Regions from separate parts of the Homo sapiens genome. Here region 2 is linked to region 1. A link means that fine-mapping ties the variant in region 1 to the expression of a gene that starts in the linked region. Tissue or cell type: whole blood. Region 1 holds a variant in brackets; the other region holds the start of a gene. All regions are shown on one strand. Distances are from middle to middle.

Region 1 (2,752 bases):
TTTCTGTTTTTCCAGCCTGGAAGGAAGAGCAAGGTGAAAGTGACCACCGTCAAGCAGGTCAGCCAGTGACACTCAGCAGAAGAGGCCATGGCTCCTGCACAGAGGTTGAGTCCCAGACCACACAATCAAGGAAAAGCCCCTGGGTTACTCTCCCTACCCCATCTGCCATTGTCCCCACTGGCTGGAGGGCCACTCGAGTTTGGAGCCTGTCCTCAGAGGCCAAGTCCCTGACGCCCGCCAGTCTCTGGCCCCTTTACTCCCTTCTGTGCCCCTCCTGGTGTCTCCTTTGCACGGAGATTGGGTCTTCATCCGGAAGCTCATGTCTCATGTGTTTTAGGACAGTTTCTCCAGGAAACCCTGAACTGAGCCCCACGGGTGAGTGCTCTATGAAGGGGGCACTCCGCGGAGAAACTGGTGAGGGAGCAGGAAGCAGAACAGGGAAGGAGAGGAGGCCAAGCGAAGAGCGATGGCAGGACATCCCTCAAGGACAACTCCAGCCTGATTCCACTGGGAGCCCTGGGGCATAAGGTGCACCCCAGCCCGCCCTGACCCGGCCGGAGCTTTCACACTCCTGCACTGGCCAGTTGGTGGCAAAGTGCTGCCCCGGGAGGCTGTAATTGCCCAGCCATCCGGCTCTCTGGGACCATAGCCAACACAGCTTCAGGAGCTGAAGCAGAACCCCTGGGGGAGGCCACTGAAGCAGAAGCTCGCTGAGGCTGGGGACGGGGTACACAGGATGGAAGGGATCTGCCGGGACACCGACTGGCCGGGTCTGCTCCAGGGTCCTGTGGTCCCACAGCCCCACGGTCCCACAGATGTTCTGCAGGGGTTGGCCAGTCACTTGGAGGCAGTGGGTGTCTGCAATCACGGCCCTCTAGGGTCTGATAATAACTGCAAAGATGAATAGCAACCCTCCCACCGGCCGGGCCCTGGGGCACCTGCTGCCATTTCTGCAGCCAAAGGTGTAGGGACAGGCACCTTTCTGCCCCTCTCAGCAGCACAAGAATGGGCGCTGGGCCTGGAACTCTTCCTTCCCCGAGATAAAGAGGCCCTCACAGCCTAAGTGGGGCTTGTTTCTGTGTGTGGGAAGACTTTTCCCTGATTCAGGCTCTGTGCCTTCCTTTGCCCTCCTTAAACCTGTGCGTCATACGGCATCTGGCCAACCCCCCACTGCGGGGAGCAGGGTAGGGCTCTCCTGCTGCCACACAAGAGAGATGACTGCTGGCCAATGGCCCTGCCTCAGCTGCCGGGAGGGATGCGCTGGCCGTGGGGACCAGTGCCCGCCGCTGCAGCTGATCCTGCCCTGTCCC[G/A]TCTCCATGTGAATAAAGCCTTGTTCCAGCCAGTGCCTCACTGCGTGTATTCCTTGGCGACTCGGAGACCAAGATCCAGGGGTACCCGGACTTCTACTCCCGATAGCAGGCAACGGATGCCTCCTGCTCGATGAAAGGGTCATATCAGACACCAGGACTTGGACAGACACCAGGACACCCCTTCCCCAGCCCTCACTGCGCGCTCTTCCCCAGGGTCAGCATCTCCCACCCTGCATCACAGTTCCCCCTCCCCACATATCACTGAGGGTGTGGGGCATATGACCTGACAGTCAGGTTCGACAGCTCTCCCAAGACCTTCGGCCACATCCTGGGAGCTCCTGGCTTGTTGCGGCCTCTGCCCTTGAGCCCTAAAAGAGCTGGGCCTTGGTGCTTTAGCCACACCCAATGCACTGCCAACGCAGCAAACATCGGATTTACCCAGAGCCTTGTGAGCAACTGGAGCGGGTCCCCAGACCAGACACTTGTGAAATATGCAGACCCCTGGCCCCACTCTCTGAGACCCAAATTCCAAAGGCTGTTGGTGGGCAGGCACCCCAGGTGATTCCAGCTCAGGGGTCTATGGGCCTCACTTTGAGAAACACTGAACTGGGGCAAAATGGAAAAGCAGCTGAAGACAAAGAAAATGGAAGTGGCCACCAGGAGGCCTGATCATAGGTGAGGAAATGCAACCCAGAAGACCAGGACCTTCCAGGGGCGACTTTCAGAGGACCCCAGGAGTCTGGAATTCTCCCCCAAGCCCTACTGAGGCGGCCTTATGAACTTGGATACCTCTCAAAGTCTGCACCCTGTAACAGGAGCTTATCCTTCCTTTTCTGTCCTGATGGGGTATTTATGATCATTGACCACGTATAAGGCCACAGAGTAGACCTTAATTAATATCAACATGCAGATGCTGCCAGTGCCTCATTGGCTACCCACGACACAACAATAGAAATAACAAAACCAAAGACAATGAAAAAAACTCTAACACTCCACTACATACATCTTGAGTCAAAGAAGATGTGAGCATTTCAGCTGCAGAATACTTAAAAAATAATGATCTTGAGAATAATACTTACAGGGTATAAACAAAGCAGTATTACCACTGGCAAATTCGTAACACCAAATATTTTCAACTGCTGGGTGCAATGGCTCACGCATGTAATCACGAGTGCTTTGGGAGGCCAAGGTGGGAGGACCACTTGAGGCCAGGAGTTCAAGATCAGCCTTGGCAACGTAGTGAGACGTTGTCTCTACAAAAAAATTTAAAAATTACCTGGGCATGGCGGTGTGCACCAGGAGTCCCAGCTACTCTGGAGGCTGAGGCAGGAGAATTGCTTTGAGCCCAGGAGTTAGAGGCTGCAGTGAGTCATAATTGCACCACTGCACTCCAGCCTAGGTGACAGAGAAAGACCGTGATAAAATAAAATAAAATAAAGTAA
Region 2 (2,609 bases), 320 kb before region 1:
TGCCGTGCCCGACGCCCACGGTCGGGGCATGGGAGAGCCTGGACTGCACGCCCGCCCGGGCCCTCCCGGGGACAACTGCATGGGAGGAACCCCAGAGCCGCGACCGCGCCTCGGAGAAGGTGCCCCACACCGGCTCGCCCGACCCACCCACCACCCCCCTTCCGCCCCCAACAGCTCACAAAACCGCGTAGGAAGGGGCGGCGTTCCAAGGCGTGACTCGGCGCCAGAGTGGTTCAGTGCCCTCCAAGGCCAGCCGAGTAGGGGGTCGGCTCCGTAGCCCCAACCCCGCTGGATGGCTGCGCGGGACGGGGTGGAGTCAGTCCCGAAATATACGGCCGGGGGAGGGGACCCTGCTCCCAGTGCGCAACGGATGGGGATGGGGGAGGGGAAGGAGATGAGCCCGGGACCTCGGCGCGGGGGGCAGTGGGGCATCCTCCCGGCAGTCCTGGCCTCCGCTCAGCCACGGTGCTGCCCCGGCGCCCCAGACCTCCCGTCCGAGCGTGCCCAGAGAGAATAAAGACACCTGCCCTCGCGGACAGCCCGGGCCTGAAGTCAATTTACGCCCACGAGACCCGCCCGAGGCAAGAGAACTGTGGTCCCCATTCACAGACGCGGCGACCCCCGCCAGCGGGAAGCCGCGAGGCCAGGGCGTGCTGGTGGGCCGACCTCCCTCCCCGGACGCCTCGCCCCGGCCCGGCCCGGCCCGCCGCCTCCTTACCCCCCGCGCATCCAGCCAAGAAGTCCAGCGCCATGGCCGGGTCCCCGGCGAGGCCGCCTTTCCTCCTCGTCCTCCCCCTGAGGCCCCTCGCCGGGCTGGGCGCCGTCGGGGTCCCCGAGCGCGCGGTGCCGGGGCTGGGCCTGGCCGCTCCTCCTGGCGCGGAGCCCGGGCAGGCGCGGTCAGGGATGGTGGGGATGGCGGCAGCAGCTAGACCCGCGCTGGTCCCTCGGCGGCAGCTGACTCGCTGGATCCCCTCCGGCCCGCGGTCCCTCACCTCGGGCCGCGCGCCCCGCCCCTCGTGCCTGCCGGCAGGGCCCGGGTGGGGGCGCCGAGTGAGGCCAATGGGCGGGCACGGCGCGGACAACACCCCGGGCACTGCGCTTCGCCGCCGCGCCTCATTGGCCGGGCGTGCGCGGGAGGCGGGGCGCGGGGGACGTGGTGGGCGCGCGGGCGGGGCGCGGGGACGCCTCAGACAAAGAGCGCGCTGGGTGCGCAGGTCCGGCGGGAGGGGACGCGCGGGGTGGCGGGGTTGAGCCGAGGACTCCCCCACCCGGAGTACGCGGGGTGGCTCTGGTCTGGACCGGGTCGGGAACCGGACCCTGGGTTCGGAGTCCGGCGCCGCCGCAGAACCTCAGCGCCCTAGTCTGTGCCGTGCGGACCCTGCCGCGAAAACGGCCGTGGAGCGCCGGGACGTTCCGAGGCCCGCAGACTGGGACGCCGCTAGTTGCGAAACTCCGCGAGCGGGAATCGCCCGTGGGGAGCCTCTGCCCGTCCCGCCTGCGCGCCCGCGGCGGCGGTGGCCTCCGGGGCTTCCGGACTCCTGGCCGAACCCGCCGGGTTCTGGGGGTCGGACGCGCACGGGCGCTTCCTGCGGAGCCTGAGGCTGGGATTTGGGCGGAGAGCAGGGAACCTTAAAAGGGAAAGGGGCCATGGGCAAAGGGCGCAGCAGGCCTTCGGGCCACAGCTCCTTCCCGAGGACTGCGGGTCGCGGGAGCCGCGGAAGGTTGTGGAGAGAGGGAGGTTCCTGGACTGGGCTGCAGAGTGGAGTCGGGCCAGATCGCAGCGCCTCCGTCAGCGGCGGCCGGACGGGGCGAGACCGGAGGGGCTCGGTAGGGGCCGCGCTCAGGCGCTGAAGTCGGAGGGTGCTTGGCTCTGGGTCACCAGGGTATCCATGGGCTGCGGGGATGAATGAGAGCCGAGTCTGACTCGGCCCCCCAGGAGTCCCTGACATTCGCAGTGGCAAGGGACTGCCCTGGTCCCTGTGGAGCGTCCCATTCGGTGACTTCCCACCAGCCCTTCCCCAGCGCCTCTGGAGGTCCAGACTGTCAGGTTGGAGCCTGGGAGCAGGGACGGGCCAGGCGCTTTCTCTTCGCTGTAGGAGTCAGATCAGCCTTAGGCCGGGCCCAGCTTCCTTCTTTAGGGCCTGCAGGCAGGCAAGGCCACACCGTGTGCCACGTTTCCAGGTTTAGGGTCACATGGTTCTTTTATCCAAATTCCAGTGGGTACCTACCTCCTGGAGGTGCAGGTCGAAAGGTTCTGTGTATTTGGTACTAGGACACACAGGTAGGTGTTGTCAGTAGTGCAGCCTGGTGCTAGGGGCAGGGGTCCCCAGTGCTCATGTTAGTTTCCTTTTAGAGTCTAAGTAGAATGTTAAGCAGAGACCCAAACCCTAGGTCTGCTGACTCCTAGTCCAGGGCTCGTGATGGCTGGTGGGCCCTGAACGAGGGGTCTGGAGGCCTGGGTTTGAATATCGACAGCCTCTCTGACCCACTTGGTTGCCTCAGGGAGGCAGGTGTGCGGATGGGGGAGAGTGGCCCATGGGCCAGAAAAGCAGTGGTATGGGGGCCCCAAGAGAAGCCCAGACCCAAAAGGGCAGGAGCTGGCTGTGGGG

The links. PIP is the estimated chance that this variant, and not a neighbour inherited with it, causes the effect.
Region 2: it holds the start of SLC25A29, and the variant in region 1 is fine-mapped to the expression of SLC25A29 in whole blood (INTERVAL, PIP above 0.99).

The regions. Positions count from the first base shown.
Region 1 is chr14:100,628,681-100,631,432 of GRCh38, forward strand. No RefSeq gene overlaps it. Among named protein-coding and RNA genes, the nearest start is that of LINC00523, 27 kb to the right of the region's middle. The variant G/A (reference allele first, on the strand shown) is at 1,311.
Region 2 is chr14:100,305,481-100,308,089 of GRCh38, forward strand. SLC25A29 (solute carrier family 25 member 29) reads right to left here and starts at 964. Exons shown (of 4, transcript NM_001039355.3): 1 at 719-964. The coding sequence starts at 752. MIR345 (microRNA 345) reads left to right here and starts at 2,379; the gene lies at 2,379-2,476. RefSeq lists enhancers at 1-466, 1,675-1,744, 1,775-1,944 and silencers at 795-894, 955-1,424, 1,515-1,584.